Homo sapiens: one gene and its partners. The protein of the gene in region 1 interacts with the protein of each later gene in a biochemical or structural test. Each region holds a gene or a part of one and is shown in the gene's direction. Other genes may lie near its edges.

Region 1 (4,258 bases):
TTAAATTCAGCTTATGCAGGCTGGGCATTGTGGCTCATGCCTGTAATCCCAGCACTGGGAGGCAGAGGTGGGGGGATCACCTGAGTCAGCAGTTCGAGACCAGCCTGGACAACATGGTGAAACCCCATCTCTACTAAAATTACAAAATTTGCCGGGTATAGTAGTGCATGCCTGTAAACCCAGCTACTTGGGAGGCTGAGGCAGGAGAATCGCTTGAACCCAGGAGGCAGAGATTGCAGTGAGCCGAGATTGCACCATTGCACTCCAGCCTAGGCAACAAGAGTGAAACTGTCTCAAAACAAACAAACAAACAACACGCACAAAAAATCAGCTTATGCGTGTTCGTCAAGAATACCACAGAAGTGATTTTGTGCGCTTCTCATTGCATCATGTTCAGAGGGACCTGGTAAGAATACCTCTCAGCTGGGGGCAATGGCTCATGCCTGTAATCCCAACACTTTGGGAAATCAAGGTGGGAGGATGGCTTGAACCCTGGAGTTCAAGACCAGCCTAGGCAACACAGCAAGACCCTGTCTCCTTAAAAAGAAGAGGGAGGCCGGGCGTGGTGGCTCATGCCGGTAATCTCAGCACTTTGGGAGGCCGAGGTAGGCAGATCACTTGAGGTCAGGAGTTTGACAGCAGCCTGGCCAATACGGTGAAACCCCATCTCTACTAAAAATACAAAAATTAGCCGGGCGTGGTGGCACGAACCTGTATTCCTGGCTACTTGGGAGGCTGAGGCGGGAGAATTGCTTGAGCCCGGGAGGGAGAGGTTGCAGTGAGCCGAGATCGCGCCACGGCACTCCAGCCTGTGTAAGTAACAAAGCGAGACTCCGTCCAGCCTCGCCCCCCGGCAAAAAAAGAAGAAGAAAACAATACCTCTTATCACTAGTGATGCTAACTTTGATCACTTAGTTAAGGTGGTGTCTGACAGATTCTTATCTGTAAAGTTGCTATTTTTTTCCCTTTGTAACTAGCAGGTGTCTTGTGGGGATTTATTTCGATACAAGGCTATAATTTTGATTCTAAGTGACTAGAAAACTATGAACAGAAATAGGGAGATCAGACATAAATAAAGGGCTTAGAACCCATAGACCGGTGTCTGGAGAACTGGTAGGGGTGAAGCATCGGTATGAAGGTGATCTGGGTTGGCTTCAAACGCTGAAGTGAGATGTGGCTTGTCACCAGCGCGTGGGGATGGCAAATCCGCTGAATAGGGTCTTCAGGAAGATATTAGTGGCTCTGCGAAGGTTTCCCCAGAGCCCTTCCCCTCCCCTGCCAGCGCCGCTTTGGAAGCCGTCTGGGAGGCTGCACCCGCCAGGACTCCTGAGTGCGGGGTTTTGGCGGCAAATGACAGTAGTGCGTCCGCGCGGCACGGGTAAGTCAATGCGCACGCGCCGACAGGAGGCGCGGGGCGGGGCACGGCGCAGGGGTGGGGCCGCGGCGCGCATGCGTCCTAGCAGCGGGACCCGCGGCTCGGGATGGAGGGTGAGTGAGTAAACAAGCCTGGGCCGGGCGGTGGGGCCGGGCCTCCTCCCCTCGCCGCCCTGGGCCTGAGGGAGGGAGAGGCGGAGGGATCAGGAAATTGGAAGGAATCCGAGGGACACACTGCCTGCCTGGCCGGGGGTAGCAGGCGCCCCTCCTCATTCCGAGGGTGGGGGAATGGGGGCGACGGGGCGAGAGAGACCCAGGCGAGGACAGCGTCTGGGGCTGCGAGGGCTGTGTGCCCGGGAGGAGGAGCGGCGGGGGCGGGCTCGGGGACGGGGAATCCCGTTGGATGGCGGTGTGGGCCGGTGGGCGGGAGCCCCAGCGCCCAAAGGGCGCGGGAGGGCGGTGGCACCTGCGGGGGCCTTTAGCGAGGTGGACTCTGGGGACCTGGAGCTGTGCTTGGGGAGGGCTAGAGACCGGGGCTGATCTTGCGATGGCTTTCGGGGATGTTGAGGAGGGGTAGCAGTAAAAACAAGGCCGGGACTAGGGTGAGGTGAGTAAGGCTCCCAAGGCACAAAGTGTAAAGGAGCACTGACTCAGGGTCGCGCAAGTGCAGTGAGCGCCTCCTCACGTGCGTCCTGGGTGCCTCGGTCGCCTCACCCCAGGCCTGGCCCTGAGCAAGAATCTCCTTCACTCCAGACTTTTGGTCTCACGCCAATGATCGCTCACCCCCACCATTCAACCGAGGATCAAATGATATAAATAAAAGTGCCTTGAAGCACAGACAAGGTGTTGTATTTGGGACATGCCTGTTAGGAAATGTGGGACAAACTTTTATTTCAATAAAAAGTGACTACTGAGGAATTGTTTCTTGAGCAGGGAAGGGAAGGGATACCTGAAGGATGTTAGTGCCCCCCGTGGAATGTGAAGGAATATGGAGGGTGAAATACAGGGTTGTATGTGATGTAGCCCAGGCCGATAGGAACCTGACGCTTGGCAGGGGAGGATGAAAGCAAAGGAGCTCAGGTACACTAACAATTAGGTGGGTGCAAGGATGGCAATGAAAACGCGAGTCTCCTCCACGTTTGCTGCCATACTGCCGCTGAATAAAAAAATTCCCACACCCCATGTTTTTTAAATTTAGGAAACTGATATTGAAGGAGGTTTCCAGCCTGAGAAGGTGCTAACCCTATTAGAGGTTTCTGTGAAAGCTTGTCTATTTTAAGTCTTGGAATCCCCAGATATGCCACTGATAAAAGAGATTACTTACATAGGAGAGAGTGTGTGTTAGGAGATAAGTACTTTAGACTGGGCTCGGTGGCTCATATCTGAAATCCCAGCATTCGGGAGGCCCAGGCAGGAGAATAGCTTGAGCCCAGGAGTTTGGGACCAGCTCAGGCAACAATAGCGAGACCTCATCTCTACAAAAAAAAAATAGCCAGATGTGGTGGCCTTCTCCTATAGTCCCAGCTGCTTGGGAGGCTGAAGCAGGAGTATTGCTTGAGACTGGGAGGTCAAGGTTGCAATGAGCTCTGATCCTGCCACTGCACTCCAGTCTGGGTGACAGCACCTGAGACCCTGTCTCAAGAAAAAAAAAAAAAGCCTGGCACGGTGGCTCATGCCTGTAATCCCAACACTTTGGGAGGCTGAGGTGGACCGTTCACTCGAGCCCAGGAGTTTGAGACCAGCCTGGGCAACATGGGACAACTCCATCTCTACTAAAAATACAAAAATTAATCAGGTGTGGTGGCACACGCCTGTAGTCCCAGCTACTCGGGAGGGCTGAGGCATTAGAATCGCTTGAACCGGGAGGTGGAGGTTGCAGTGAGCCGAGATTGCACCACTGCACATCAACCTGGGCAACAGAGTGAGATTCTGTCAAAAAAAAAAAAAAAAAAAGGAGGCCTGGCACAGTGGCTCAGGCCTGTAATCCCAGCACTTTGGGAGGCCAAGGCAGGCGGATCACTTGAGGTCAAGAGTCCGAGAGCTGCCTGGGCAACATGGCGAAACTCCTTCTCTACAAAAATACAAGAATTAGCTGGGCGTGGTGGTGGGTGCCTGTAATCCCAGCTATTCAGGGGGTTGAGGCACGAGAATCGCTTGAACCTGGGAGGTGGAAGTTGCAGTGAGCCGACATGCACCACTGCATTGCAGCATGGGTGACAGAGCAAGACTCCATCTCAAAAAAGAAAAAAAAAAGGGAGAGAGAAGTACTTAAAAACGCACATACATAATAGGAGAAAGGACTATCTATAAAACTGTAATAATGCTATCATTGTCAAGGTTTATGCTTATTGTTGTGTGTCACAAACATAATGAATCAACTCCAAAGGCAGGGATATATGTTTTATTCATTGATGTACCCCAAACACCTAAAATGGTAACACATAGTAGATACTACTATTAAGTATAATAGTAGGTGCTCAACATATATTTGTGGAATAAATAGTGGGGAAATTTCTGGCACTGGGAGTCAGGTGATCCGGATGCTAGTATTGTCAGTAACTGGCAGAGTACTTGTATGCTAATCGTGGAACTTGATGCTAAGGCCCAGCTTAAAATTCCTTAAAGTGTAAATGACTTCTTCATTATGATGGTTACATTAGTGCCCTTTGAAACAGCACTAGAGGCTGGGCTGATGGCTTACACCTATAAGCCCAGCACTTTGGGAGGCTGAGGCTGTTGGATCACCTGAGGTCGGGGAGTTCAAAACCAGCCTGGCCAATATGGTGAAACCCCATCTCTACTAAAAATACAAAAAATTAGCCAGACGTGGTGGCGGACACCTATAATTCTAGCTCTTGGGAGACAGAGGTGGGAGAATCGCTTG
Region 2 (3,500 bases), on another chromosome or scaffold:
TGAGTAGGGCTGAGCAAATGCGGCAAAATCAATGCACATATGACAAGATTCAGTGGCCCAAAGAAGGGAGCTAAATGAGGAATCAAAGCAAATACCCCATATGGAATTGCTGTAAAAAATCAGAGAAAACCTGAAAGTAGTGGTTTTCAAGCATGACCCACTAGTGGATTGAAAATCAACTTAGCGGGTTGGAACCAACTTCCTTTTTCTAAAACAAAAAAAGAATAGCATACATCAGATTGCATCAGGTTCTTAGCAAAATCATATTTTATATTATCTTTTTCATACCAAAGATATTTTATATTATTTTTATTATACCGTAGTAAAGGTATTGTTTCATGAAAGTTTTTAGTTATATATATTTATTTATTTATGTATACATATAAATCTTATGTGTATGTGATCCATGTACTATGATGTAAAATGTAAATTATTATGGTAAGTCAAGATTTTTTTAATTTTTAAAATTCTTTAAAAATTATTTTTATTTATTTATCTATTTATTTTTTGAAACAGGGTCTCACTCTGTTGCCCAGGCTGGAGTTCAGCAGTGCAATCCCGGCTCACTGCAGCCTTGACTCCGTGAGCTCAGGTGATTCTCCCCCTTCAGCCTCCCGAGTAGCTGGGACTACAGGCACACGCCACCACACCTGGATAATTTTTTGTATTTTTATTAGAGATGGGGTTTTGCCATGTTGGCCAGGCTGGTCTCAAACTCTTGAGCTCGAGTGATCTGCTCGCCTCAACCTCCCAAAGTGCTGGAATTAAAGTCGTGAGCCACCATGCCTAGCCTAGGTCAAGATTTTAAAAGTTTCATAAATAGTCCTGTAGAACACTGGGTGGAGTTTGGAATGGTGAAAATGTGTCAGGAGAGTATTGTAACTGAAATATTCCTGATCTTCTCTTTCAAAAAGATGGCCTTCTTCCCATTATCCAAGGCAAGGATTTCAGGCCTGAGTCAGCCATAAGCTCATCTGTCTTTTTTTCTGTACTTACCTCCTCATAAATGGATTAAGAGAGCCTCGAGCAATGGTGAGGGTTGGAGAAGGTGGACAGGTGGCCCAGTCTTATGCGCTTTCCCTCTCTTCCTTCCTTCTCCTCATCCTCCAAGGATGGTTGTAGCCAACTCCAGCCAAAGTGCAGATGCCAGAGAATCCTGCAGCAGTTGCTGAGAACACAGGATACCTGTCACATTTACTGAAGCAGTGGCAGGACAATGCATCCCCTGCATTGAGCTAGTTGTCAGAAGCAGAAAATAAAAAGTGTGTGTGTGTCTCTGTGTGTGTGTGTGTGTATGTGTGGTGAAAAAGAGAAATATATCTAAAAATAATCTTAAAAGACATGATATGTAATTTCTTACCAAAACTCAAGCCAAAGCAATCACACATACACCCACACACATGCACGCACACACCCCCATCCACACACACACACACAGAAGTAAATGACAGCAGTTGGACCATCAAAATCTGAAAAATTCTTTCAGGCCAAAGACTCCATAATGCTCTATAGCTGTTATTTTGCATTTCTTTGAATCTCCTCTCAGTTCTATTTAGAGATCACGAAATGTCTAATTTAATGGCCCTGCCCTTAGTTCTCCAGGAAGGAGATCTTAGTTGTTCATCCACGAACAACTTTTTGAGCCACTTTCCTACTTCTATTTCTTCCAGTAGGCAGATCATATTTTGGGTTTCTTTGTTTTAAGTTTGTGGTTTTTGTTTTTCCCTCTTTTTCTTTTTAGGTTGTAGTTAAGTGGTGTATACAAATTTATTAGCAATTTATTATATTGCCACTTTGTATTTTAATCTTTAATATTAAATTTTGTGTTTGGTAAAAATGCTGTAATTAGTAAAATGTAGAGTAATCAGTTTTTACCCATTCTCTGCTCTTCAATAACAGCTTGTTGAGTATTCTCTCTGATTTATTCTAGCATCAGACACACACACGCGCACACACTGTGCTGCAGCATGTTTTGTTTTCCAATTCTATGTAGCACAAAAAGACTTAACCTCATTCTTCTCCATATCTCAACAGTATTCCATGTATCTTGATGATCACTTACAATATAAGGCAAGTAAGCATAGGCAATTCATCAGATTTGAACCAGAGATGGGGTTACTAAGTGAACTATTAGTTCCCCAGAAGAATTAGCCCAAGCAAAGGTGTTGTACAGTATGTAAAATGTCTTTTCCTACTTTATACATTTTATCTGGCCAGAGAACACCTTTAAACATTAAATGCAATCATCCTTAGTCATTCAACAAATATTTACTGAGCAATTGATAGAGGCCATTCGCCAAGCTAGGCCTCATGGATCAACTCGAAATATGACAGACAGACTCTGCCCTCAGGGAGCTTAGAGTTCAGTAGACATGACCAGTGGTGACACAAGCCACTGGAGTAGCATCAGATGAGTGCTTTGGTAGTGGAAGAACCTGTTCTCAGAGCACAGACAGCTTTGGGGGTCTGTATTGGTTTGTGGTTTCATTTTAAAGAAGTGTTATCCAAAAATAGGGTTTGAAGAGTGATGAAAATTTAGCATCATCAAGGACTATAGAAAATTTGGAAGGCATATCTCCTAATGCTATCCCTCCCCCCTCCCTACACCCACAACAGTCCCCAGTGTGTGATGTTCCCCTTCCTGTGTCCATGTGTTCTCATTGTTCAATTCCACCTATGAGTGAGAACATGCAGTGTTTGGTTTTTTGTCCTTGCAATAGTTTGCTGAGAATGATGGTTTCCAGTTTCATCCATGTCCCTACAAAGGACATGAACTCATCATTTTTTATGGCTGCATAGTATTCCATGGTGTATATGTGCCACATTTTCTTAATCCAGTCTATCATTGTTGGACATTTAGGTTGGTTCCAAGTCTTTGCTATTGTGAATAGTGCCCCAATAAACATACGTGTGCATGTGTCTTTATAGCAGCATGATTTATAATCTTTTGGGTATATACCCAGTAATGGGATGGCTGGGTCAAATGGTATTCCTAGTTCTAGATCCCTGAGGAATCGCCACACTGACTTCCACAATGGTTGAACTAGTTTACAGTCCCACCAACAGTGTAAAAGTGTTCCTATTTCTCCACATCCTCTCCAGCACCTGTTGTTTCCTGACTTTTTAATGATCACCATTCTAACTGGTGTGAGATGATATCTCATTGTGGTTTTGATTTGCATTTCTCTGATGGCCAGTGATGATGAGCACTTTTTCATGTGTCTGTTGGCTGCGTAAATGTCTTCTTTTGAGAAGTGTCTGTTCATATCCTTCACCCACTTTTTGATGGGGTTGTTTTTTTCTTGTAAATTTGTTTGAGTTCATTGTAGATTCTGGATATTAGCCCTTTGTCAGATGAGTAGGTTGCAAAAATTTTCTCCCATTCTGTCAGTTGCCTGTTCACTCTGATGGTAGTTTCTTTTGCTGTGCAGAAGCTCTTTAGTTTAATTAGATCCCATTGGTCAATTTTGTCTTTTGTTGCCATTGCTTTTGGTGTTTTA
Region 3 (3,500 bases), on another chromosome or scaffold:
CAACAGAGCCTCTACCCCACTGGAGGAGAGGTCTGGGGACTCCTATGAGGCTGCGAGCTGCATTTGGAATGAGTCAGGGGACCCCTCCCTCTTGTAAGTGGTGCAGTCCGAGGGTCTTGAGAAGTGAGCTGTGTGGCCCAGTTGGGGGATTTTGTGACCAACGACATCCTCTAGGAGCAGTAGTAGATTGAAAAAGTGCAACAAGAAAGCCCTGGGATTGCTGATGATAGCAGCAAGCTGGGAAAGGCTTGCTGGAGATGGGGGTGGGGGTGGGTAACAGAGGAGTCTCGGGTGGGATGAGTAGAGGAGAGGAATTGCCCCACCGCAGTAATCCTTACTTCAGCCCTTGGAGGGAGCATGGGTGGATGCAGGACAACGGAAGCACTCTGTACCCACCCTCCCCCACTACGCATAAATGATTGGACTCCGTGGCTAATGCCTGATAAGGCACTTGGAGGGGCAGCACCAATGCAACAGAGGAAAGATCCCTGTTTTTGTGGCACCTCCAGGCTAACTGAATGAAGCCATAAGACACACATACATACACATACACACAAATACACACACACATATCACACACAAGACACACACCCCTCAGACACACCCTCAAACCCCAACACATACCTGGGGCAAATTGTGGAAAGAGAGGCTCATGCAGACAAGCTTGGTTTTGGGGGGTTCTTGCCTTCACATATAGGCCCTAGCAATCATTGCTAGGGGGACTAGAATTGATACCTATTGATACTAGATGAAGACCCTTAGCTTTGACAGGCCCCCTGGGAGGAAGCACACTCAAGTCAGCTTCTGTTTGTGGGGCAGCCTTAAGGCCATTAGCATTCCCAGCAGAAAATTCTGTTCTGGCTCTTCTCTCAAGGACTTCTATTTTCCTTTTTACCATAAGTTCAGAAACAAAAACATTCTCTTGCATTATCGGCAGCCAAAATGAAGGACTCTCAAAATGGGGTGGACCTTATTGTCTGCTGAGAAATCCTGGGGCTAGGGGCAAAGGGGTAGGGTAGGGAGCAAATCCAGAGAAACATGCCATTTTCCCTCCTTTCCTCCCCTCAGCTGAGCTGCCAAAGGCAAGGACAGTGATCTTGGGGTTCTGTATTATTTCCCACCCATGACAGGCAGAGCACCCTTTTCTGAGACCTGAGGCACCATCCTTAAAACAGAACATTAACAGCCTGTGGCACACTAGTGCCCAATCCCTGGTAGTCAGAAAATGAGCCTGGAAATGGGAATATGTGTATAACGTGGGGCGGGGAAAGGAGAGAGAGGGAAAGAGGTGCTACTTGTGTATCTGTAGGAGCAGGTGTGTCTATTTCTGTGTGTTTGTGTTAAGGAACATGAGAATGAGCAGGTGTGTGCACTCTTGCAGCTTTCTCAGCATGCATGCCGTAGCCAGTGTTTTTGCTCTGTGCCTCAAATTCACTTTGCCATTAGCCACACTACTAGCCACCCGCAGCTTTTGAAAGAACTCTCTGCTAGGTTCTAATATCTGGGTCTCCTTCCAGCCAAGTGACCCCTCCTTTTTTCTCTTTTATTGCTAGTTCTTCTTACTACCCCTCAAATCTGGGTGTTCTCCAGCTCCTCCTGCTTTCCACTTTCTTTATTGACAAGGACACACAGGCATGCATGGCTTCCCTTCTCACCTCTTTACCAACCATTCCCATTTCTCTAGCCCAAACTTAACCCCACTCCTGAGGTTCAGTCCTATATTTCCAACTGCTTGCTAAACATTTCCTCTTGGATAGCTTGCTCTCAGACTCAGTATTCACAAACTCATCTCATTATTTCTCAGAGATGACTCACTCTTCTCACCTTTCTTTTACCATAAGGCTTCTTGTCTCCCAGTCTAGAAACCTCAAAGCCATCTCTGACTCATCCCCTATGCCCCAGTCCACCCTGACTCCTGCCACCACCTCACAGCCACACTGCACTAGTCTCTTTCCTTTCCAGTCCATAATACACACAACTGCTAGATTAATGTTGTGGAATATCCTTTATTCATAATGCTTCTGATCATCATCCTTGGAGGGTGATACCTGATTGCCTGTGGGATAAATTTCAGCCTCCTTAGCCTGGCATTCAAAGTTCTCCTTGTGTGGACCTAACCCTGTATATTCTTCCAACCCTATTTCTCATGCTTGGTCCACATCATTGATTCTCAAATTTTAATGTGTCTTAAAATTGCTTGAGGGAACTTGTTATAATGCAGATTCCTGAGTCCTACCTCCTGAGCTTCTGATTCAGTAGGTCTGGAAGCTGGAGTCCAGGAATATGCATTTTAACAAGCTCCCCAAGTGATTTTGATACACTTGATCTACTTGTGAAACAAAGCCCTACATGGACCCTTCTACTCCAGCCAAGTTTCTTACCCCAGGATCTCCTAAACGTACCTTGTACATTTTTTTTGCCTCTATGTTTTTGTTCATTCCATTTCACTCACCAGGAATGCCCTTTCCTTTCTGCCTATGCTTCTCTCCTATTCCATATCACTATACCTATCCTTCAGCTCTACATTCAAATTCACCTCCTCTGTGAAATCTTCTCTGATCATTTTAGACTAAAGTGATCTCTCTCTCCTCTCAACTCCTCCGTCTCTAAAATACATTTGGGGCTGGGTGTGGTGGCTCAGGCCTGTAATCCTAACACTTTGGGAGGCTGAGGTGGGAGGACAGCTTGAGCCCAGGAGTTTGAAACCAGCCCTTGCAACATAGCGAGACCCTATTTCTACAAAAAACTAAAACATTAGCTGGGTATGGTGGTGCATACCTGTTATCTCAGCTACTCGGGACTACAGAGAGGCTGAGGCGGGAGGATGGCTTGAACACGGGAGGTCGAGACTGCAGTGAGCTGTGGTCGCACCAGTGCACTCCAGCCTGGGTGACAGAGTGAGACCCTGTCTCTAAATAAATAAATAAATAAAAATACATTTGGCAAGTACATCTTTTTTTTTAATTTTTTTAAATCCCCATAGCATATGTGCCTAATACACAGTAGGTACTCAATAGGCATATGTTGAATTGGACCAAATACTTGTTGATTCATATTAGACAGGGATTCTATCGCATCTCCCCCTGCACATTAGTTCATAAAACATTTATTGAGCACCAATTATGTACAAGGCACTGTGCTAGTTGCTGTGGATAATACAAAAGATGAAGGAGGCTTCCTGTCCTTCTCCTTCTCAGTCATCTTTGAATTTACAGTGCCTAGTGCATAGAAGAGATACTTAATAAATATTTGTTGACTACTCAAATGAATGACTTCATGAATAAGTGAAGGGATGAAGTTCAGACTGGAAAAAACTTGAGCAAGTACGTAGGGTGGCTGTGTCATAGAGAAATAGGGCAGGAATGGAAGATAAGGCTAGGAAGATAGAGTGGGTATAGTGGATGACTATTATTATTATTATTATTATTTTTAGAGACAGGGTCTCACTCCGTTGCCCAGATGAGTACAGTGGCATGATCATGGCTCACTGTAGCCTCAAA
Region 4 (3,500 bases), on another chromosome or scaffold:
ATCATTGTCTGGGTGACCTCATAGCATACACTTGGCCCATTCAAAATTAAATTGGTTCTTATTTTCAGTAAATGTATGTATCTCATAAAATTAGAGGAAATAATATGCATATAGTGTCTGGATCTGGAAAAAGCAGAACTTTTTTTTAGCTTTTTCTGTCTAGCTTAACACAGCCTTTCAACATTCTTAAGAAGTACCTTTAGGGTATTATTCTAGTTATATAGAAGAAAAAATAGAGGCATGATATTGGTTATTGAGGAGTTCTAAATAGTAGTATCTCCCTATTCAGAATGCTTAGATCTTTTCAAGTTTAGTTTAACGTTAAATCTTCTCTAAAAGATGGTGCTTTATTTCATCTTCAAAACAAAATGGAAAATGATTGTATGAAGTAAGATGATTGTATGAAATTAATAATTAACATTTTAATATGTCATTAAAAGATACTTTTTAAAGATAGATCATTGGTAAGTCAGCTAATTTAATTCTTGCAGCCTGAGGTTATAGTTGTGAATATGTTTTTTTTCCCCCTCCTTCCTAAATCGTTTAGTGGGTTTGTTGAAGCAGTTGCTGGTGCAACAGCTAGGTTTGACTGAGAAGAGCGTTCAGGAAGACTGGCAACATTTCCCAAGATACAGAACAGCCTCTCAGGGGCCGCAGACAGACAGTGTCATCCAGAACTCTGAAAATATTAAGGCCTATCATTCTGGTGAAGGACATATGCCCTTTAGAACTGGAACTGGTGACATTGCAACTTGTTACAGTCCACGGACTTCAACTGAATCTTTTGCTCCACGGGATTCAGTGGGACTGGCACCCCAGGATAGCCAGGCAAGTAACATTTTAGTAATGGACCACATGATTATGACCCCAGAGATGCCTACCATGGAGCCAGAAGGGGGTCTTGATGACAGTGGAGAGCACTTTTTTGATGCCCGTGAAGCACATAGTGATGAGAATCCATCAGAAGGTGATGGAGCAGTTAACAAGGAAGAGAAGGATGTTAATTTACGCATCTCAGGCAAGTATCTTTCACACTTAAACTTTGATTTTGATTTTGATCATTGTTAACTGTCCTGTATTTTGAAATGGATGTTGTATTGGTATCCAGGTGTGTGTGTGTGTGTGTGTTCACACATGTGCAATATTTATTCCTTCATTTGATAAATACTGAATCTACTCTGTACCAGACCTCATCATAGGTGCTGGGAGATATAGCAGTGAATAAAACACAGAAAAATCCCATCTTCTCATGAAGCTAGGGGAAAGAAGGATGGTAAATAAGTAAACAAATAAATAGACTTCAGGAAGTATTAGGAAGAAACATAAGTCAGACTGAGGGGACGGAGAGTAATGAAGGCAAACAGGGTGATCAGGGATTAGGACCTCCGATGAGGTAGCATTTGAGCAGAGACCTCAATGAAATGAGGGAATAAAGCCGGGTGGGTACCTGGGAGCTTACTATTCCAGCAGAGAGCAGAGTGGGGCAGAGGCTTTGTGTCAAAGAGCAAGCTTTTTGTGGTGATCGAACACTGGATGAGGGAGACAATGGCAGGAGATGGGGCAAGAGAGGCGTTTGGCAGGGGAAGTGGTAGCAAGATCATTTAGGCACTGTAGTTTCCAGCTTTAAACTTTTGAAATGAAATTTTTTGGAAATTACCATGAAAGTTTGCAGAGTTTAGCTTTCATCTGAAGTGAGGAAATTCTGATGTACCTGAAACTAAACTCAGGAATTAATGGCTTTTCCCTCTCTTAATAACTTTTCAAGTTGAAGTTGTCAGCACACTATGCTATTTCTGTTTTCTAATGGCAGCACTGGTCTTATCAAACTATTCTGTCTCTATCCATAGGAAACTATTTGATCCTTGATGGCTATGACCCAGTGCAGGAGAGTTCCACAGATGAGGAGGTTGCTTCCTCACTTACCCTGCAGCCCATGACAGGCATCCCTGCTGTGGAATCCACCCACCAGCAGCAACATTCTCCTCAGAATACTCACTCCGATGGGGCAATTTCACCATTCACCCCCGAATTTCTGGTCCAGCAGCGCTGGGGAGCTATGGAGTATTCCTGTTTTGAGATCCAGAGTCCCTCCTCTTGTGCAGATTCACAGAGCCAGATCATGGAGTACATTCATAAGATAGAGGCTGACCTTGAACACTTAAAGGTACCTCATACTTCCACATCCATAGGACTTGGTTGTAAGAAACATTTAGCAGAGGGGAAGAATAGGGTGATGAAAATGCTGATGTCAATAAACTTGTTCAGGTTCTAGATTTCTTTGACTATTATCCATGAATAGGCCTGGGTAAAAAGTTGAGATTGGCATTGTTTATCTTTTTCTTTCTTTCTTTTTTTTTTTTTTTTTGAGACGGAGTCTCGCTCTGTCAACCAGGCTAGAGTGCAGTGGCGTGATCTCAGCTCACTGCAAGCTCTGCCTTCCAGGTTCACACCATTCTCCTGCCTCAGCCTCCCAAGCAGCTGGGACTACAGGCACCCGCCCCCACGCCCAGCTAATTTTTTGTATTTTTAATAGAGACGGGGTTTCACCATGTTAGCCAGGATGGTCTCGATCTCCTGACCTCGTGATCCGCCTGCCTCGGCCTCCCAAAGTACTGGGATTACAGGCGTGAGCCACCGCGCCCAGTCGGCATTGTTTATCTTTTGACTATCACAAGAGCAGAAAAAGTTGCAGCTCTGTGAACTGTGTGTTTGTATGGGTGTCTAAGTTTAAGAACCTGAAATGCTTCGGGTAGTTGGCTGGCCTCTGTCAGACATGAACAAGAAGATGAGATAGGTAGGGTTTATGTAGTTATGAATCTAGGCTGAGAAATGCTATGACTTTCTGTAGCCTATTATCTGTGACTCATTAGGTGACATTGGCAGCTTCCCAAATCCTATGACAGATAGAAATTGGCTTCAGTGGCTCCTGTAATCTAAAAACATGGTCATGCATGGGATTTTTGTAGATTGGTAATTGAAGATGTCACTATTGCAAAACTGACTTGTGTGGCAATTTCCAAGAGAAAGACCTATCTTAAAGTTTTCCATCAGAGGCAGGGCACGGTGGCTCACGCCTGTAATTCCAGCACTTTGGGAGGCAAGGCAGGCGGATCACGAGGTCAGGAGATCGAGACCATCCTTGCTAACACGGTGAAACCCCGTCTCTACTAAAAATAAAAAAAATCAGCCAGGTGTGGTGGTGGGCGCCTGTAGTCCCAGCTACTCAGGAGGCTGAGGCAGGAGAATGGCATGAACCTGGGAGGCGGAGCTTGCAGGGAGCTGAGATCACGCCACTGCACTCCAACCTGGGTGACAGAGCGAGACTCTGTCTCAAAAAAAAAAAAAAAAGTTTGCCATCAGAAAACACAGCTTCCAGAGCCCAAACATTTTCCTCATGACATCATTTACACCAGAGACTTGAGGGGTAGATTTAAGTATCCTTAGCCTTTGAGTTAAAGACTGGTCTCCCTTAGTTTCTCTTTTACCTTCATATAATTGAT
Region 5 (3,500 bases), on another chromosome or scaffold:
TAAGGACATGCCTGGGAGACAGGTATGTTCCTTTCTCCAAAGATGATTTTGAGGGCTTTAATATTTAAAGTAGGCTGAAGAGCAAAGAGGGAAGGTATGGTAATCCACATGTTGCCAGAGGAAAGGAGCAGGCAAGGGAATAGTCAATTACGTATTTTCTTTTGCTTAGTAAGTTGGGACTTTACATAAGATAAGGTGAACATAGAGTAATTACCTGTGGAGATATTTAACCTGTTATCTGTAGCTATCTGCTTGGGAACAAAAGGAAAAGCAGTTTATTGCATGACTCAGCTTGCAGCTTAATTTTTTCTCTTGACATGGTGGATTGGGGTCCCAAGTTTTTGTTTTGTTTTTAGTGTCAACAGCCTAAAATAGGCAATAGGAAAGAAAATACTGTATGAGAGATGTCATAGTGTTAGACTGTGGAGTTTGGCAATCTATTGTATATGAAAGTTGACAGCAGAGAGAGTTTAAAACTATTATTAAAATTTTAGCCTGGGCTGGGGCACAATGTCTCACACCTATAATCCCAGCACTTTCGGAGGCTGAGGCAGGAGAATCACTTGATCCCAGGAGTTCAAGTCTCCAGTCAGCCATGATCACACCACTGTGACAGCCTGAGGGACAGAGCAAGACTCTGTCTCAAAAAAAAAAAAAAAAAAAAAAGTTTGAAGGAATGATAGTGGCAATAAGAAGCAAGGTATGTATTCTGATTTTTGTGGGAAGTAATAAAGAGGTTTTGGATATGTTGAATTAGGGTCTAGCAGAGTATACAGGTGTAGGCATCCAGCAAGAAACTGGCAAATCCAGAAGTACAAGTAGGGATACAAATTTGGGAGTTATCTTACAGATTATGGTTGAAACTGTTAAAGCTCACAGTGGGAGAGAAAGAAAGAAGATAGAGGATTGATACTGAAAAACCTTGACTCACCTTAAGGAGAAAGAAAGGGAAGAGGAAATCCGGAAAGGAATAATTTAAGAACAAAGAATGCTAAGTGTTCATATGCCAAGATAGGAGAAAATTACAAAAGGGAGGAGGTGGTCTGAAGACAAAAACGGCTATAGGATTTGGTGATTGGAAGTTATTGGTGACCTTTAGAAAAACATGTTCTTCCCTTCTACCTCATACATTGTGAGATTACAGGGGAATAGAGAATGAATGCTGAAGAAATAGAGGTAGTGCATGCAAACAGTTCTTAGAACAAATTTAGCAGTCAAAGAAAGAGGAAAGAAGATGGGAGGAGAGTGATAATGCGTTCCAAGAAATAGTTGTATTGTTTTCTTTATAGAGGTGTATAATTTTAGTTGAGAGAAGGAGCAGAGAAAGATAATAGTTAAGTAATCAAGAAGACAGAGTGTCTGTGAGTTTTGTAAGGAGGTTAGAAGAAGTATGATCAAGATCATCAGTGGATGGTTTCACCTTGAAAAGGAAATAGATCTAATTCAGAGACTAGGGGAAAGGAGTAGTGAGAAGATATAAAGAAACTTTGAGGGAGAAGGAAAGAAAATGTAGAAAGCATTTATCAGAAGTCCTCAGTGTTCTCACAAAAGATAAAGGAATCAGCTAGGGAGAGAGGTAGAAATGGGGTTGGAGACGGTGGTGGAAAAAGGTCTGGAACAGCTATCACTGCGTGTTTATTAAGGAGTTCAGCAAATGAGTAGAAGCGGTTTTAAGGATGAGCTGGAGTCAGCTAGTATGGGTCTATGGTGGAGAATGAGAATATACCTTTCTCCCAGAATATTCAACTTAATGATGGCAAGAAAAGGATTGCAGAATATGGCCCAGGACTGGAAAGATGGCAGAAGATCTTGGGGACAAAGGATTCTAATGATTTACCAAGTGCTTTGTTGAAATTACAACAGGAACTCCTAGATGGGCAAGGATGCAAGTAAAGTCTAAAAAGGTTACAAGGAGGAAATTCAGTAGATGAATAGAAAGTATGAAAAGAGTGGAAATTGTTGTCAGGTTTTTAAGAGTTTGAGATATTGGAGCTGAAGCATGTCTAATATTGAAGTCTAAGTTTACGTCAATTGGTGACTGAAGTGGAATGGAGTTGGAAACTATTGGTTTACAAAGGTAGACTGTCTATAGGGCAGAAGTGTTGGTAGATTCATTCACCAACTGTATTGGCAAGAGAGAGAGTAGAGGGAAGATTATGAGTGCCTTGGAGAAGGAAGATTGCGACAAGGAAAATGAGAGAGTTGAGTAAGGGAGTGACTTGAGCATTAGCTGAGCAGAGGATAGTTGGTGAGTCAAGATGGAAGAATAACAGTGCAGAAGGAACAGTGAAATGCAAGGACACTTTGATCTTTCTTTCATTATTTACAAATCCTAGCCCTAGCTCCAGCACAAATCTCACTGAGCTTCAAGTTTCTTTATCTGTGGAAACGAGATAAAAATAATGTCTACCTCATAGGGTTATCATGAGAATTAAAAGAGATAATGTATGTAAAGTACAGAACCTATCAAAAGAAATATATCAGATGTTCTTATTGCTGCTACTGTTAACGATGACATTGACAAGTATAAAAGATATGTAATCTTGCACTAAGTGGGCTGTGCTGTGTCACTGAATACAGCATAGGATAGATAGATTATTACTTGTGGCCGATGTCACTCCTAACTGCAAAAAGTATTAATACAAGTATTCCTTCACATCTCTCACCTCTAAGTGGTAGGAGTGACCTACACTGAAATTTTTTTAAGGATTTATATCATCACAGGAATATGGTTTTTACTAAGTTTTGATTAAAAAATGACTAATTTACTAATTTGGATATAATGGATAGGAGTATCCGTGGAATCACAGGAAGTTGTTCACTATGAAAAGCCCAATAGAATGGGCTAGTATAGATTTATATGACATCAAAATAAATTGGTGGAGAGTTTCATAGAGTTATATTTCTACAGTTGCAGCTGGCAATGCCAGGGCTTAGGAATATAAAGGTTAGGGTGGTAACCTGGAAGACCATGCTATCTTTAAGGAAGCAGGTTAACACTCATGGAAGAAATGCTAATACGGTAACAGATTCCCAAGTGTCAAAACGAGACAGGCATAGAAGCTAAGAGGAAGGAGAGACCACTTTTTATTTTACATAGGTTCTCTTCAGATGGCCTGTGGAACTTCAGTTCTAGGAAAACATAGTTTTGAAAATGAAAAAAGTTCTAAGTTCTGAGCTCTAAGTAACTTTGCCCATACTCCTAGTCCTTGCAATTTGCTCTGAAGGAGTTTGTTATTTAAAGTTTGGCCATTTGAAAATAAATTGTTGACTTCTAATAGCCTTCTTCCTTTCTTACTACTCTTTGGTGTTTTGACAGGTAAATGGCCAAGACCTAAAGAACCTGCTGCACCAGGATGCTGTAGACCTCTTTCGTAATGCAGGCTATGCTGTGTCTCTGAGAGTGCAGCACAGGGTAGGTATCACTTTGAGCCAGAAACCTGGCACCAGGCTTTTGCACTGTACTTCTGAATAAGCCCAATGTGTGTAATCTTCAGTGT
Region 6 (2,921 bases), on another chromosome or scaffold:
TGTTTCATGCAGCATAGTGTCCCCGAGGTCTGTCCGTGTTGTAGCACACTTCAGACTCTCCCTCCTCTCCAGGGCTGAGTACTGTTTCCCTGCAGGCCTAGAGCACATTCTGTTTCTCCGCTAGTCCGTGCTGTCACCCTCGGCTGTTGTGAACACTGCTGCTGTGAACACGGGTGTGCACGGCGCCTGTTTTCCATTCTGTCCAGTCTCGTGGTCACAGGCGCTCCCAGGCCCTCCTGTCCATCTGTTTGGCGTCACTTTTAGGCTGGAATGGAAGCCCCCACCGCTGCACTCCAGCCTGGGTGACAGAATGAGACCCTGTCTCCAACAAAACCAGAACCAGTATATTTGGCACAAAATGCCCTTACGTCACTTGGCGGGGGGGGGATGTAGGAATAAAGTGACTCTTCCCTGTCGATGTAGACCATTTGGGCATCCGGCAAACAGAGCCTTCCCTTGACAGAACAGATGCCCCACCTTTCTGGTGGCCAGGGGACAGGCTGCCTCTCCTTTCCCGCCCGCCCATCAGCTAAGTGCCTGTCTTCCAGGATGGTAACCAGGCTGTGCCGTAGGAGGCCAGGTGGCAGTGGCCTTGGGCTGTGTCACCAGTCTCTAGCCTGACCACAAAGGGAGCGGCCCTGGGGGAGGTGCAGCTGGGGGACAGGTTCCACCGTGGGAGTCAGAAAACTTGGTGGTTCCCCACACACCATGGCATTAACTCTCTTGTTTTAAAGAAACATACTGCATATCATAAGGATCTCTGTCTGTGAGTCAGCGAATTGCACGTGCACGTATTCATCATGTGGCGCTTTTCCCTCTGCATGTCCCATCTTTGGGGACGTGGTGGAGCGCCTGTCGGGTGTGGCGGGAACACGTGTGCTGACCTGGCCATGTCTGCTTAGATCTGCAGCCTCATGAGAGGGGGCATTGCTGAGCGAGGGGGCGTCCGTGTGGGCCACCGCATCATCGAGATCAACGGGCAGAGCGTGGTGGCCACAGCCCACGAGAAGATAGTCCAAGCTCTGTCCAACTCGGTCGGAGAGGTAAGGAGGGACTTTGAGTGTGCCTCTGCATGCCGGTTCCCACGTGCTCCCGCCTGCCCTCCATGAGCCTCCCCCGCTCCAGAGGACACAGGGCATCTGAAGGTCAGCCAGGCTGTGTCTCCCATCGGGGCTGCTGTGACAAGGGTGAATGGAGCGGCAGGTGATGCGGAGCCATCCCGGTCTGGCTCTAACTGAGCAACCGGGAGGGCACAGGCTGCTGGGGGTGCTCCCTGGACACTACTTTTGGGACTGGACCTGTATGTCCAGTTCAGAAGCTCTGCAGGGCACACAGCTCTGGCCACCCTGGCAGGCTTGCCTCTCTGCCCTTGCTGGCCATCCCCTCCCACAGCCAGGCTGCTTGCCCTGTCCCACTTCACTGGCTGAACCCCCCACAGTCCAGTTCTTTCTGGCATCGCTTCCACGGCAGTGTGAGGATGGTGTGGGGGAGGTGCAGGTTTTCCTCCAGAGCTCACAAGGAGGCAGGATCATTGGGAGGGGGGATGGTGCTGGGGAGGTGGCACATACACCGGGGGAGGCCTGGCCAGTGCGCAGCGGGTGTGCGTGTGTGTGTGTGTGTAGTGTGAGCGAGTGTGGGTGTGTGCATGTGGATGTGTGAGAGCATGGGTGTGTGTGGGATGTGATGTATGAGTGTGGGTAAGTGTGGGTAGGTGTGGGAAATGAGTGTGTGCGTGCACGTGGGTGTATAGGGGTGCATGAGTGGATGGGTGTGGGTGTGTGGCTGTGTGAATGTACCTGAGTGTGCGTGTGGAGGAGTGTGTGTGTGTGGGTGAGTGTATGCGGATGTACGTGTGTGTGTGAGAGCATGGGGTGTGTAGGAGTGCGAGTGTGGGTGTGTGCAGGGGTGTGTGGCTGTGGGTGTGTGTGAGCATGGGGTGTCAAGCATGAGTGTGTATGTGTGCACGGCTGTGGCTGTGGGTCTGTGAGTGGGTGTGAGGCATGGGGTGTGAGGAGAGTGTGAGTGGGTGTGTCTGTGTGTGTGTAGGGGTGTGTGAAGGGGTGTTCAGCACAAAGGGGCTGCAGGCTCTCTGGGAAGCGTGGTGGCCGCACGAGGCGGGAGGCTGAGAGCTGAGGAGCCCGGCCTACAGAGGGGCCCGCTGGGGACCGGGCAGGGAATTTGGGTCTGGGGACAGCAGCAGCAGGCCGGGCCGTCTGTGGTGCTCCCCCTGGTGGCTCTGTGAGGCTGAGTGCGTGGCGACCATCCTTGCAGCCTGTGGGTGGGCGGGTGGGTGGAGGGGTCTCTAGTTCCTGTTCTTCGGATGAGGTCTCCAGGAGCCACATCGGGACACTGGTATTTTGTGCACTGCAGGGTCGGCTGGGAGCTGGGAGGCCTGTTTTCCCTGGACTGGTGGGGGCAGGGGTCTGGCTCAGGAGGAGGAGGGGCCAGGCGGACACCAGCCTCCCTTTGATGGCTTCAAAGAAAGGAAAAGCCAGTGTTCCCAAGTAGATGCTTTGAAGCGGCCGCCCCCACGGCCAGCAGCCCCACACCTGTGAGGAAATCCACCCGTGGAGGAGCGGGCGGGAGAACGGGGAAGAGGCAGGAGGCGGCCGGGGCGTTGGAATCCTTTCAGCCCTGCCGAGGTTATGGTGCCTGTTTCCAGCAGCTCTGAGCCCACGCGGAACATGAGTCGCTGATAAACAAGGCTTGCAGTTGCGAGGGGCCTCGGGGTGGGTTTCTGGTTGAGGAACGCCGGGGAATGGCTGATGGAGGAAGCCCCTGCCGGGAGCAGGAGCAGCGGAAACCTACATCGGCCACACAGATCCCGGCGGGGGAGGGAGGGCAACGCTCAGAAGCAGAGCTGCGCGATGTGCCTTTCTGGGCTGCTCAGCCCAGGGCCCGAGACCTGCTTGCCTGAGGAG
Region 7 (3,500 bases), on another chromosome or scaffold:
CTGCCTGGTGGCAGAGGCTGTACCATCCACCACCTGCACTTTGCCTTTGCACCCTGGGGAACCCGTTGGAAATGAGCACTATGAAAAGGTGGTGGCCGACCCTCTGCCAGTGTGTGCTGCCTGGAGGCTTCTAAGCCTGGGGCATCTGGAGAGGTGCTTTGGAGCAGGGTTGTGCAGCTCTCATGGATGGTTAATAAGTGCCGGCTGGAGAGGCTCTTTGAGGGGTTTTGTTCTGTGATTCCAAGTACTCACTTTGAAAACTGACCACAGGAGACTGAGGTCAGACTAGAGGGCGATTGGAAGCCGCTGGTGTGGTGTGCACAGGCCAGGCCGCACGTTTGTGATGTGAGCACTGTCTGAAAATGCTTTTGTTGTAAATGAAACCGAGGCCTTTGATGAGTCCGTGGGGGAAGCTGCGGCCGGCTCTGAGCTTCTTAGGATTTGACAAGGCCACTCGTTGCACCTTCCTCAGAGGAAGAGAAACAAAGGCTTTGCTCCTTTACTCCTTTATGGCCTGGCTCGATGGAACCTCAAGGCTCCATCTGCTTATGACCTGTACTGGGAACTCCGTGACCTGTTACAGCAAATTCACCTCTTCAGAAAGCCAGGCACAGCGAAAGCCTTTGCCGTGGTGAAGTGTCCGCAGTGGGCTATAGGAACAGGAGAAGGGCCAGCCACCCACCCCGCAGGGCAGACGTCCGCGTTGGGAACCCAGTCTCTGGTGTGCGAAGCTGTCGGAAGTATTTCTGAAGAGTTCAAGGTCCTCGGAGAAAGCACAGCTGCTGGCTGACCTGGGCTGGTTCTGGAGGAAGCGAGTGGTGGTCTGATTTCAGGACTCACCCATGACAGCTCTGGCGGGCAGTGAGAGGCTCCAGAGAAGATGACCCACGCCCCGGTGATATTAGAAAGAGGCCAGTTCGCAGTGTCAGCTTTGGAGGCTGGGGCGGTTCCACTGTTTAGTTTCCTAAGGGACAGTGTGGCTCCTTTTCTTTGGAGGGGTTCCCTGGTTGCTTTCTGTGGCCCTAGGCAGCCACCGTCCTTTCCAGAAGCCTTTTGCAGCGCCCGCAGCGTGACGAGTGAGTCAAGCCTGGACAGTGACAGTTGGCTGCTGCGGTGTTTAGTACTGACCCCGGTCGCAGTGGCAGGCGACCCGTGCTGTGTTCACTGGGACCTGGACCACTCTTTCCAGAGCTTTCCAGAAAATAGGCTTTCCTCCTGGCTCACTCGTCTGCCACCTTTGTCTTTGGTGAGAACATGAGCACGGAAGTGGGGTACAGTAATGGGGAGATGTGTGCGCAGTTTTCCAGTATTTTCCTGCCTTGCAGTCCAGCCTCACCTTTTCCAAATCGGAGACCTGCCTTCCTTTTTCTCTGCCCTCCTGCCCCCACAGAGGTTCTGGAGGGAGACTGAGAAACCATCTGGAACTCCTGGCCCTGGGCACGCTACGGACATTAGAAGTGTGATTGTATGACACGCCAACGCGTCCCAGGCTGTTTTCCCGTTTCCCCAGGAGACTGCATCTCTGTGGCCTGGAGCGCCGGGCACCCGCGGCCTGTGGTGGGCGGGACGCCTGCATTCCGGCCATGCCTGCACCGGCTCGAGAGGGGCCCTTTGTGCCCGCCGTGCTTGCGAGGCCACTCAGTGCTGCCATCCCAGGGAGTATCTCCTTCAAGCCAGGACGGGTCTCTTGCCCTGAGGGGTAGATTCTGGGGGTTTGTGTCTGGAATGTCTGATGGTCTATTCTGCCAACGTGGCTGCGATTCGCCTGTTTTCCTGGTTGCACTGTGTTTGTGACCCATTTCCCACGTCGCAGCCTGTGGGGTAGGAGACACGAGGTTTACGGAGAGGCGAAGCTTTGCCCTTGGGCTGCCCGCTGCTCTTCTGTGGCTGTGATGGTGCTGGGGCCGGCTCCGGGTGGGGCGCTCCTTGATGCTCACTGCACACGGGCGCTGCGCCCAGCACTTTCCAGAAATCCAAGCCCTGCAGCGGAGCGTGTCTTACTTAGGCGACCTCATTGTGTTTCCCAGTAATGGCTTTCCTTGAAGGGCGCTCCAGCCCGTTTAGTCCTCTCGGTCTCTGGTGGCCCTGCAGGCTCCAGCCACATCCTCTGCTCAGGTGCTCTGGTGTCAGGTCTGCGGGGCCAGGATGCCCACGGCCTGTTATGTCCATTAGATTTTGAGATGGGGTCTTGCTCTGCTGCCCGGGCTGGAGGGCCGTGGCACTATCATAGCTCACTGCAATCTTGAACTCCTGGGCTCAAGCCATCCTCCAGCCTCAGCCTTCAGAGCAGTGGGTACAGTGCACACCACCATGCCTGGCTAATTTTTAAATTTTTTGTAGAGCCGGGGCCTTACTATGTTTCCCAGGCTGGTCTGGAACTCCCGGGCTCAAGCCGTCCTCCCACCTTGGCCTTCTAAAGCGCTGGGATGACGGGCAGGAGTCACCGCCTGTGGCCTCATTTGCTCTTGGTGGTCACGATGGTTGGCGCTAACCTCTCTCACTTTTTCACCCAGGTCACGGCCTCCCCACATCCTTTGGCTGAAGCCCACAGTCCTCATCCATGAAGCCTCACCCACCATGTTTTATGGGACGCACTTCATCATGTCCCCGCCCACCAAGAGCAAACTGAAGCGGCAGAGCCAGCTGTTGTCCAGCATGCTGTCCCGGACGCTGAGCTACAAGTACCGGGACCTGGACTCCACCTTCTCCAGCCTGGGCGCCAGCGATGACCCCGCCGAGCTCTCCACCCAGCTGTCGGCCCCTGGTGTCCTGAAGGTGTTTGGGGACAGTGTCTGCACAGGAACCCACTACAAGAGCGTCCTGGCCACCGGCACCTCCAGCGCCCGTGAGCTGGTGAAGGAGGCGCTGGAGCGGTACGCCCTGGACCCCAGGCAGGCCGGCCAGTACGTGCTGTGTGACGTGGTGGGCCAAGCCGGCGATGCTGGGCAGCGGTGGCAGGCCCGGTGCTTTCGGGTGTTTGGGGACAGTGAGAAGCCCCTCTTGATCCAGGAATTATGGAAACCCCGAGAAGGTTTATCCCGGAGGTTTGAGCTGAGGAAGAGGTCGGACGTGGAGGAGCTGGCAGCCAAGGAGGTGGACACCATCACGGCAGGTGAGGGGGGCCACAGGTTCAGGAAGAGCCGTGGGTCTGAGCGCTGAGAAGGCCAGCCGAGGTAGGCGGAGAAGGAGTGGTGCAGGGGACATGCGTGGGGCGGGCTCGCTCTGCAGGAGGCAGTCGGAGCCCGTGTCCTGGATGTTTGAAGCCTTCCTCTTTTGTTCTCTGAGACAGGGTCTTGCTCTGTCACCCAGGCTGGAGTGCAGTGGTGCAACCACAGCTCACTGCAGCCTCCTGGGCTCAAGCGATCCTCCCACCTCAGCCTCCTGAGTAGCTAGGACTATAGGTGCACCACCACACCCAGCTAATTTTTTACTTTTTGTAGAGACAGGAGTCTCGCTGTGATACCCAGGATAGTCTTGACCTCCTGCCCTCAAGCGATCCT

What was found.
Region 2: the proteins of EZH1 (region 1) and IL16 interact in a test that uses a peptide from one of them, tested with the Homo sapiens proteins (one large-scale study listed by IntAct).
Region 3: the proteins of EZH1 (region 1) and FRMPD3 interact in a test that uses a peptide from one of them, tested with the Homo sapiens proteins (one large-scale study listed by IntAct).
Region 4: the proteins of EZH1 (region 1) and ARHGEF12 interact in a test that uses a peptide from one of them, tested with the Homo sapiens proteins (one large-scale study listed by IntAct).
Region 5: the proteins of EZH1 (region 1) and SYNJ2BP interact in a test that uses a peptide from one of them, tested with the Homo sapiens proteins (one large-scale study listed by IntAct).
Region 6: the proteins of EZH1 (region 1) and APBA2 interact in a test that uses a peptide from one of them, tested with the Homo sapiens proteins (one large-scale study listed by IntAct).
Region 7: the proteins of EZH1 (region 1) and RADIL interact in a test that uses a peptide from one of them, tested with the Homo sapiens proteins (one large-scale study listed by IntAct).

Annotation. Positions count from the first base shown.
Region 1 is NC_000017.11:42,742,241-42,746,498, reverse strand, and holds the start of EZH1 (histone-lysine N-methyltransferase EZH1), read left to right. Parts: upstream 1-1,458; 5' UTR 1,459-1,481; coding exon of another isoform or gene 1,482-1,488; intron 1,489-4,258.
Region 2 is NC_000015.10:81,199,879-81,203,378, forward strand, and holds part of IL16 (pro-interleukin-16), read left to right. Parts: intron 1-522; exon of another isoform or gene 523-592; intron 593-3,500. UniProt on the Homo sapiens protein: Interleukin-16 stimulates a migratory response in CD4+ lymphocytes, monocytes, and eosinophils. Primes CD4+ T-cells for IL-2 and IL-15 responsiveness. Also induces T-lymphocyte expression of interleukin 2 receptor. Ligand for CD4.
Region 3 is NC_000023.11:107,452,652-107,456,151, forward strand, and holds part of FRMPD3 (FERM and PDZ domain-containing protein 3), read left to right. Parts: intron 1-3,500.
Region 4 is NC_000011.10:120,479,413-120,482,912, forward strand, and holds part of ARHGEF12 (rho guanine nucleotide exchange factor 12), read left to right. Parts: intron 1-547; coding exon 548-1,018; intron 1,019-1,847; coding exon 1,848-2,164; intron 2,165-3,500. UniProt on the Homo sapiens protein: May play a role in the regulation of RhoA GTPase by guanine nucleotide-binding alpha-12 (GNA12) and alpha-13 (GNA13). Acts as guanine nucleotide exchange factor (GEF) for RhoA GTPase and may act as GTPase-activating protein (GAP) for GNA12 and GNA13.
Region 5 is NC_000014.9:70,375,591-70,379,090, reverse strand, and holds part of SYNJ2BP (synaptojanin-2-binding protein), read left to right. Parts: intron 1-3,319; coding exon 3,320-3,415; intron 3,416-3,500. Other genes in the region: SYNJ2BP-COX16 protein, read left to right, coding at 3,320-3,415. UniProt on the Homo sapiens protein: Regulates endocytosis of activin type 2 receptor kinases through the Ral/RALBP1-dependent pathway and may be involved in suppression of activin-induced signal transduction.
Region 6 is NC_000015.10:29,112,974-29,115,894, forward strand, and holds part of APBA2 (amyloid-beta A4 precursor protein-binding family A member 2), read left to right. Parts: intron 1-902; coding exon 903-1,043; intron 1,044-2,921. UniProt on the Homo sapiens protein: Putative function in synaptic vesicle exocytosis by binding to STXBP1, an essential component of the synaptic vesicle exocytotic machinery. May modulate processing of the amyloid-beta precursor protein (APP) and hence formation of APP-beta.
Region 7 is NC_000007.14:4,877,217-4,880,716, reverse strand, and holds part of RADIL (ras-associating and dilute domain-containing protein), read left to right. Parts: intron 1-2,513; 5' UTR 2,514-2,577; coding exon 2,578-3,112; intron 3,113-3,500. UniProt on the Homo sapiens protein: Downstream effector of Rap required for cell adhesion and migration of neural crest precursors during development.